Linked DNA regions of Homo sapiens: region 2 is linked to region 1. The links come from fine-mapping of genetic effects on gene expression. A gene starts in region 1. The other region holds a variant in brackets. All regions are shown on one strand. Distances are from middle to middle.

What was found.
Region 2: its variant is fine-mapped to the expression of PSME3IP1 in whole blood (TOPMed, PIP above 0.99).

The regions. Positions count from the first base shown.
Region 1 is chr16:57,183,329-57,188,328 of GRCh38, forward strand. It overlaps PSME3IP1 (proteasome activator subunit 3 interacting protein 1), which reads right to left and starts at 2,711. Exons shown (of 7, transcript NM_024946.4): 1 at 2,493-2,711. It overlaps RSPRY1 (ring finger and SPRY domain containing 1), which reads left to right and starts at 3,001. Exons shown (of 15, transcript NM_133368.3): 1 at 3,001-3,123. RefSeq lists enhancers at 2,336-2,385, 3,697-4,341 and a silencer at 3,086-3,295.
Region 2 is chr16:57,155,368-57,160,367 of GRCh38, forward strand. The region is part of intron 6 of PSME3IP1 (proteasome activator subunit 3 interacting protein 1); the gene reads right to left. Among named protein-coding and RNA genes, the nearest start is that of PSME3IP1, 28 kb to the right of the region's middle. The variant T/C (reference allele first, on the strand shown) is at 2,870.

The sequences.
Region 1 (5,000 bases):
TGTCAAAAATAATTTTTTTTTTGAGATAGGGTCTCGCTCTGTCACACAGACTAGAGTGCAGTGGCATGATCTCAGCTCATTGCAACCTCCACCTCCCAGGTTCAAGCGATTCTCCTACCTCTGCCTCCCGAATAGCTGGGATTGCAGGTGCCCGCCACCATGACTGGCTAATTTTTGTATTTTTAGTAGAGACAGGGTTTCACCATGTTGGCCAGGCTGGTCTCAAACTCCTGACCTCAAGTGATCTGCCCACCTCGACCTACCAAAGTGCTGGGATTACAAGTGTAAGCTACCACGCCCAGCCAAAAATATTAATTCTTAAATAGAAAAGCTAACAAGATAGTAAAGAATTTGGACACAATCTAGAAGGTGAAAACCAGAAATTAAGCCCAATATTCAAAATGGATTTCATCCTGAGGACTTCTCTGACCTAAAAGCTAAAGTTTCAGTGCCTTTATGAGATAACAGAAACAAGTTCAAGCCAGGAGCCCATCCAGGGAGTGGAGTCTGACAACTACCTCCCTCTCCATCTTAATCTTGTGCCCAAAAGAACTACAGCTTCAAAGTAAAGGTGAACTGGGAAGTAAAACAGCAGGAATAATGGACAACAGAAACAGACTCCCCCAAAGGGAATTCAGACAGTGGAATTAAACATAGAGATTATAAAAACAACTATACTTTCCATGTTTAAAGAAATAAAATTAAGCCTCAAAATAGTAAGAAATAAAAAACTGTAAAAGTGTCACAAACCAAACAGAACTTCAGAAACTAAAAATTGCAATATATGATTTAAGATTTCAGAGGCCGAGTTTAATAACAATGGAAATAACTTGAGAATAAATTATCCAGAATGTACTACGAAAGAACAGAGTAAAAGACATAGAGAAAAGAGTGAAAAGGTTTAGTTAAATCGATAAAAAAAAAAAGAGAAACAATGGGAAGAAGCAATATATGCATATAAAATGGCTGAGAATTTTACAGAATTAATGAAAGACACTAATCCACAGATTCAAGAAGTCTAATAAATACCAAACAAATTGAACAAAAACAAACCCATAGTTCCATAGAGCATAGTGGAAATACAGAAAACCAAACACAAAACAATCTTTTTTTTAAACTTGTCGATACTTGATTTTAGACAAAACAATCTTAACAACATATTCTATAGTAAAGAGTGAAACATAATATTTAAGAATGAAGACAAAGTATGTTCAAAAGGTGACTAATGGTGAACACGTTGAAAATGCTTAATTTAGCTGCCATAAAGGCATAATTACACTATGACTGACCCTGTACGTACATCGCACTTGTTACTTGATTTACCACATACGTGGTTTTCAATAGCTAAAGCAGCAGCTTGATTCTAACCAAGCATCACCATTCTTGGAAGATGAAAGTGAAGACTGATAATCAACTAAATGGTTTTGACACAATTATTCCTTTCTTATATCATGAAGCACTTCCCCACAGGGTAAGGACATGAAGACTTCAGTTGAGAAAGATAATCGGGCAGCCTCTACTTTCAGATCCTTACAAATTGTTCGCAGGTCATCTAACTAAAAGACTGTAAAAGCTGCTGTCGGCTCAATACTTTGTATCAAAAAGGAGTCTACCCACTGATTCCCTTCAAATATTTCAGAAGGGTGCCTTCCATTTTATGGTGTCCCTGTGGACACATGAATACACCAAATAACTGATGAATCGACAAATCTTATGTCACAGGTGGTAGGCAAGAGGTCATCGGGAATTCCGATCACCAGGCTCGCATCTGGCTTCTTGGGTCCCACTCCTGAACTAACCAGTCGGGCTACCCGAGCGTGCGGGAGTCTGAGAAACTGCATTTTAAAAGGGCCCCAGGAGATCTTGTTTTCCACTAACATTAAAGAACCACGACTACGAACAAACAGGTCTCCCCCTTTCCTCTGTGTGGACTGACAGTCACAAGGACCACCAACTCTCAAGCATGACGCTTCAACTCTCTTTGTTTCTTAAGTTTTCTGCAAAACGGGCCAGCTGGCTTGTTTTCCGTAATAGAAAATTCGCTTGGCACAGCAACTGGTACATGGCACACAATAAATGTGCTTCCCATCCTGCACTGCCATTCTGGGATTCAACCATTTCCAACCAGACGCCGCACATCCGAGTGAGTAACCTGGACCTGTTCCAAGACCTCTGGAACGGAGCCTGCTACTCACTTGAAACCTGGGTGGCCCTACCTAGCAGAAAATTGGGGAAACCCCATTAAACGCCCGGCAGTGTTGGGCCCGCCTGAAAGGGTCCTCGCCGCGACCCAGATGCCTTCCCGCGGGCACCCTCAGCTCCCCTCAGGCTGGGCCCGCAAGCCCCAGGCTTCGGCTACTCCGGACAAGGAGCGGGTGCGCGGACTGAGAACAGGCCTGGCCCTAACCCTAACAGCAGCCGCAGCTCATCTCTTCCGTAAGGAAGCTGGAACCCAGGTGTCGCCGCCAGGCCAGGACCGAGGCCGCACTCACCTACCGGCGCGCGGGAGGCGAGACGACCTCACCTCGGCGGCGCCCACCCCAAACCGCCACCGCAGAGCCGCTCGCTCTTAAAAAAGAAAAAAAAATGAAAGGAAGAAAGAAAGAAACAGAGGAAGGAATGAATGAAAGAAAGAAAAAAAAAAAGAAAATAGCCTTTGCTTTTGTATTTCTTTTGACCCTTCAGGGCTTCCTGTTCCTCACCGCCACAATAGAGTCCCGCCCCACTTCCGGCGACGTAACCCAATCCGCGGAGCTCTTCCTCCCCGGGAGCCCGATGGAAATCCGGTACCCTGAAAACGAGCCGGAGAGACTTGATTGGGCCATTCACGCCTCAGGATGAGGACTGGCCAGTCTGCGCCTGGAGGGCGGGCCGGTCCCGCTGATCACGTGACACGATTTTTGAAAGGTGATTGGCTGTCAAGGAGAGGGCTTGCCACCGAGGAAGGGGCGTTTCCTAGGGGACTGAGGGAGGGCTGGGGCGGTACGAAGCGGGGGTGGGCTCTGCGCGTAATGGCAGCGCCGTGGCCTCGCGTCCATCTTTGCCGTTCTCTCGGACCTGTCACAAAGGAGTCGCGCCGCCGCCGCCGCCCCCTCCCTCCGGTGGGCCCGGGAGGTAGAGAAAGTCAGTGCCACAGCCCGACCGCGCTGCTCTGAGCCCTGGGCACGCGGAACGGGAGGGAGTCTGAGGGTTGGGGACGTCTGTGAGGGAGGGGAACAGCCGCTCGAGCCTGGGGCGGGCGGACCGGACTGGGGCCGGGGTAGGCTCTGGAAAGGGCCCGGGAGAGAGGTGGCGTTGGTCAGAACCTGAGAAACAGCCGAGAGGTTTTCCACCGAGGCCCGCGCTTGAGGGATCTGAAGAGGTTCCTAGAAGAGGGTGTTCCCTCTTTCGGGGGTCCTCACCAGAAGAGGTTCTTGGGGGTCGCCCTTCTGAGGAGGCTGCGGCTAACAGGGCCCAGGTGAGAGGCAGCTATCTATCTCCTGGGGTGGCTCCTGGTACCGATGGGGTCCTGACCTACTCAGGGGTGCCCGGGATAGAAAGGGTAGATGAAGGGACGCTTTAGGAGGGTTCTTTTTGTGGAGTTTACGGTCTAGGTGGCACGGATGAGGCATACCTCCCCGGGGAGATTTAGAAACGCCTTGGGATAGAGAGAGAATGGGGCTAGGAAGCAGGAGCTAGAACTAGCGGAATGTCCTACTACGGAAGCCGGAGCTGAAAATTGGGTAAGGACCTTGGGGAGAGGGGATTTCTGGGCGGTGATGGGAAGAAGACACCTCCATCCACAGGAAAGCCAGAGTGGGGAGTAGTGAAAGGGAAACGGGAATTATTCCCTCTCTCTGTAGATCGACCAGGTGTCCCAGACACAGGATCCAACTGCTTCCGGGCTTATTGCCCGAGTGGGGTGGGGAGAGTCTATCCCACCAACACCCCTTGCGTGAGTCCAAATTAGGCATTTGTCTCTCCTGCTGCCTCACTTTCCCCGTCTTTGGGGAGGGAAACCGACTGAGACCGAGGCGGTCGGCTGAGACTCCGAGGTCCTGTCTTGTATAGTTCTCTGAGAGAGGTTGCTCCCCCTGGAGTGTTGTACTTTGAACTTTGAAGGGTTAGAAGTGTCTGTTATCGACTGAGTAGAATCCCGCAGTTTTCCAGGCCCTTTACCTACCATCTGTTCTTGCTTAGTGGAGTGACTTAACCTCCTTAAGTCTCTACTGTAAAATAACCAGCGCAGTATGTGAAAGTACAAATTACAAGCTGCGTGAACGTAAGTTAGTGTGATTCTACCACCAAACGGGTTGCTGTTGAGGAATAAAAGTGAAGGCACTTTCTAAAATGTAAAGTAGTATGTAGAGGTAAGGGGTGGGATTAATACAGTCGTTGTCTGTCACCTGCGGAGTGCTGGGAGCCATATTGTACTGAAAGCTTCAAGGTTCACAGCTTCTTAGGTCATATTAAGATCTAAACCCATGGTTTCAAACCCTGCTTAGATGGGGATGGTGGGATTTCCAGCTTTTGCTCTCAGAGTTTTCATTTACTTTGAACTTCTTATGGTGCTGGCAGGAGTTACCACTGTAATATCTTTTCCTTCAGGAATTATTTTCCCCTAACAGCTGAAATTTTCCTCTAAGTAATTTGATCTCAACATTGTAAACCTCCTCCCCCTTTTGCATATATATATGCATGGCTTTTGGATGTCTACAGGCAGTGAATATCATACTTTCTCCCTCAGTTGTGATTTGTAAAGACTGCCTTTTTTCCTCCACGAATACTATGCGTTGTTGTGGTAGCCCTAGACTATAGATTATGAGGCATGTTGGAAGTTGCTTTTAAATTTCTCTTGCACAGTGGTTCTCTTTATTTTTCCCCTTATGTGGACTTTGCATTTCCTGGGATGGTATCTTGCTTTGTAGATCCCTCTATGAGATTGTAAGAGACTTGTGTCCCTGTATGACATTTTACTAGTGTTTGGTTCGTCGTACTTGTTAGAGATGGTTTTCCAAATA
Region 2 (5,000 bases), 28 kb before region 1:
ATCCTGGCACTTTGGGAGGCTGAGATAGGAGGACCACTTGAGGTCAGGAGTTTAAGACCAGCCTGGGAAACATAGTGAGGCCCTATCTCTACGAGAAAATGTTTTGAAAAATTAGACAGTGCCAAGTGAGGTGGCTCATGCCTGTAATCCCACACTTTGGGAGGCCAAGTTGGGTGGATCACTTGAGGTCAGGAGGTCAAGACCACCCAAGGTGGGTGGATCACTTGAGGTCAGGAGTTCACTGGCCAACACAGTGAAATCCCATCTCTACTAAAAGTACAAAAAATTAGCTGGGTGTGGTGACGCGTGCCTGTAATCCCAGTTACTAGGGAGACTGAGGGAGGAGAATAGCTTGAATCCAGGAGGAGGCAGTGGTTGCAGTGAGTTGAGATCGCGCTACTGCACTCCAGCCTGGGCAACAGAGCAAGACACTGCCTCAAAAAAAAACAAAAAAACTAGTCGGGTATAGTGGTGCATGCCTGTGGTCCCAGCTACTTGTGAGGCTAATGTGAGGATTGCTTGAGCCCAGGAGTTCAAGGTTACAGTGAGCTATGATGGCACCACTGTACTCCAGCCTGGGCAACAGAGCAAGACCCTGTCTCAAAAAACAAACACACAAACAAACAAACAAAACAAAGAAAGAAAGAAGGAGGAGGAAGAAAAGAAAATGCAGGACTTGAAGATGAAAGGAAAAGTTAAGAACTCTACTCCAGCCCTTCCATTCTTCCCTGAAATGTTTCCGGCCTTATTTAATCACTACAACTTGATGTATAGGCATTATCCCCATTTTACTGATGAGGAAAGTCAAATGACTTGGCAAGGTTGTAGGTTGCTTAGGGCAGAAAATGTGAAACTAAACGTGAATCAAAAGAGAACATACGAAAATGATAACCTGAGCTCACTGCAGAGTAAGGGTTGGAGTTCATACTTTGTTGCCACAGGCTGACAAGCATACTACCTTCTAGGGTTTTGCCTTAGATGCACTAACACCTCATTTACCCAGACACCTCAAGTAAATGTGAAAAGAATACACAGTTCCAAGTATAGGAAACCAGGAGTAAGCAAACAATACCACTGAGCAGTTAGAAGAGATATCAAACGGCCCGCACACAAAGTTCAGGAGATCAATGTATTTGCTTGTTTGTGCAAGAAGCTCTAAGAAGGGAAAAGGAAGTTGCCAAAGATAAGCAATGTTAAAACACGGAGATGGAGAAAAGTCAAATGAAAGCCGACAGTGGCTACAGAGATAGAGCAAGGCTACAAAAAAAAGGCAGGAGCAAATACTTGTACTATCATAAAAGCAAATTTCCTTAAGATACTAAGAGTTCTTCCAAATCTGTTAAAAAAACAACCAACAACCAAATAGAAAAGTGAATGGAAAACATGAACAACTCAAAGAAAAAGAAACAGATGAATTTTAAACATAACGGGATAAACAATATATTAGGAGGGAACATGTTAGGAACAGCAAACTTCATTTGCTGTTCAGGGAGTACAGAGAAATTTGGCAAAGTTCTTCGAACTTAAATGATGTTCATAAGAGAACATTCATTGCAGCACTGTTTATAGTAGCAAAAGAGTACTGACAACCAAAATGTCCATTAATAGATGACTAGTTAAGTAATGGACTACTATTCAACCATGAAGAAGAATAAAGTAGCTGAGCATAATGGCTCATGCCTGTAATCCCAGCACTTTGGGAGGCCAAGGCAGGAGGATCATTTGAGCCCAGGAGTTTGAGAACAGCCTGAACAACACAGGGAGACTCTGTCTCTACAAAAAATTTAAAAAATTAGCCGGGTGTGGTGGTGCACACTTGTAGTCCCAGCTACTCAGGAGGCTGAGGTAGGTAGGAGGACCACTTGAACTGGCGAAGCTGAGGCTGCAGTGAGCCATGATCGCACCACAGAACTCCAAACTGGGTGACAGAGCGAGAACCTATCTCCAAAAAAAAAAAAAAAAAAAGAAGAAGAAGAAGAAGAAGAAAGCATCTCTGTGTGTACTGTTATTGAATGATCCCCAAGATATTGTGCTAAATGAAAAAGGCAAGGAGCAGGACAGTGTGTGAAAGTTACAATCTGGGGCAAAGTGGCCATGCCCATGTAGATGCATGTCAGTGTCTGAGAACAATAAATAAAAACTGGTAGCAGAGGCTGCTCAGGGGAAAGGAAATGAGTGGCTGGAAAATGGGGGAGACTTACTTTTTACTCCACATTCTTTTGTCCCTTTTGAATTTTTCCTTTTCTTTTTTTTCTTTTTTTTTTTTAAGAACATAAGGCTCACTATGCTGCCCAGGTTAAACTCCTGGGCTCAAGTGATGTTCCCGCCTCAGCCTCCCAGAGGGCTGGGATTACAGGCATGAGCCACCTAGCCTGGCCTAAATGTTTTATTATGTGCATATATTACCAATTCAGACAGTTTTTTAAAATGCAGCTGTGCTTGGGTAGACAATTTTTTAAAAAAGCAAATACAAAAATTCAAAGAACATCCTGAGCCCTTAAACTAGGGAGGAATAGTCCCATTTATCTCTGTAACCCCAAGAGCATCCCAGTATTAAAGCTAAGAAGGCTGTAGAAGATGAGAGGGGTTGCTTGTGTGTATTCTCCACTAACGGTAAGCCCCTTGAAGGCAAGCATTCTTTTATCACCATTCCACCCCCAGGACATATAGCACAGGGCCTGGCTCAGAGCAGGCTTGCATTCACAAGGGTCAGAAATCAGAATGCAGGAAAATGTGTCAGACAGTTTACAGTTTCATTGCAAATGGCTAATTTGGGGGGAAGGGGTATAAAAATGTGATGCTCTTTTAACATTTGGAACATAACATCAAACTATACCATTCATGACTTAAAAATACATTGTAGTACTTA[T/C]GTATACCAGATAGAATGATATTTTCAGCATTCTGTTAGAAAAATTTGGTTGTTTAAAAAAAACAAACCAGCCAGGCGTGGTGGCTCACGCCTGTAATCCCAACACTTTGGGAGACTGGGGCGGGTGGACCACCTGAAGTCAGGGGTTCGAGACCAGCCTGGCCAACACAGGGAAACCTTGTCTCTACTAAAAATACAAAAATTAGCCAGGCGTGGTGGCACACCCCTGTAATCCCAGCTACTTGGGTGGCTGAGGCAGAAGAATCGCTTGAGCCTGGGAGGTGAAGGTTGCTGTGAGCCGGGATCGCACCACCCCACTCCAGCCTGGGTGACAGAGCTAGACTGTCTCAAAATAAAAAAACAAACCAACAAAGAAAAAAAACCTTAAAAGGATATATAGATCAGTTACCTAGAAAACTAATTTATGTGAAATTGTTGAATGAGGTATTTCATTTTATCAAGTACAGACACCCCTGCTTAATGATGGGAATATGACCTAAGAAATGCATCATTAGACAATTCCATTGTTGTGAACATCATAGAATACTTATACAACCTAGATGGTATAGCCTACTACACATGTAGGCCACATGGTATATAGCCTATTGCTCCTAGGCTACAAACCTGTACAGCATGTTACTGTATGAATACTGTAGGCAGCTGTAATACAATGGTCAGTATTTGTGTATCTAAACATAGCTAAGCATAGAAAAAGGCATAGTAAAAATACGATATTATGATCTTATGGGACCACCATCATATATGCACCCATCATTGACCAAAATGGCGTTATGTGGCACATGACCATATTTCAAGGGCGAATGGAATTTAAAGTTCTATTTTACATAGAAAAGAAGGATGAAAGTCAGAGTGCCTGTGGGGGTAGAGAACTGGCCTAACGGAAGAATGGAAGTTAGCTACAGAAATATAATCAAGGAATCTGGACCACTGTGGTATCAGAAGAGTTTAAGTGAAGAGACCAAATACCCCAATTATCTAGGAGGTTTCAAGAAAGAAAAGAGATTGCAAATCTGACAAATTTCATTCCAAAAGCAGTTAACTGTCCAAAGAGAACAAAATGGTGCCCTCTGATCTCACCCATTTGGTGAAGTTTCCTGCCAACTTCTGCATTTGCAGGACCACATTGTCATACCAAATTAACACAGAAAATTACTAATAGAGAATGTTCTTAGTATTCAGACAGATGCGTGACTTGGGAGTAGATGGGGCCAACTTGTGCATTCACTGGCTCTGCTCAGTGCTTAAGTTCAAAATCTTCGCTGGGGGAAGCCTGAATTTCTATCAGAGTCATAGGGGCCCAAGACGGAAATCCTCCCACTGCTAAGGACAGGGCTGAAGCAAGCTTCAGGGAGCGTTCTTCTTGTGGAGCCTTAATTCCTAGCAAAGGAGGACACTTCCTGCCTGGTTTCTGTTGCAAGAATGCAGGAGTAGGAAGAAGGGATTTAGAATGACAAAAAGATGGCTCTGAAACACAGCTGTCTGCCTGAGATAGTTCAAAGAATCCACACAAGTTTTCCTTTCCACTGATTCATTTGTATAGTTCCTACCAGGAAATAAGTACCATATAAAGAGCGACTAGCTTACTTGTAGAAATACATTTAAGATTCCTATGCCAAGAGCATTTAACCCCAGCTACTCAGGAGGCTCACGTGGGGGATTACCTGAGCCTGGGAGTTTGTGGTTGTAGTGTGCCATGACTGCACCTGTGAATAGTCACTGCACTACAGCCTAAGCAACAAAGTGAGATCCTATCTCTAAAAAAAAATTAATTAAAAGAAAAATATTCCCTTTGGGAGGCCGAGGCGGGTGGATCATGAGGTCAGGAGATCGAGACCATCCTGGCTAACAAGGTGAAACCCCGTCTCTACTAAAAATACAAAAAATTAGCCGGGCGCGGTGGCGGGCGCCTGTAGTCCCAGCTACTCGGGAGGCTGAGGCAGGAGAATGGCGTGAACCCGGGAAGCGGAGCTTGCAGTGAGCCGAGATTGCGCCACTGCAGTCCGCAGTCCGGCCTGGGCGACAGAGCGAGACTCCGTCTCAAAAAAAAAAAAAAAGAAAAATATTCCTATGAAGCTTTATGTGTGTGTGTGTATACACATATACAGTATAC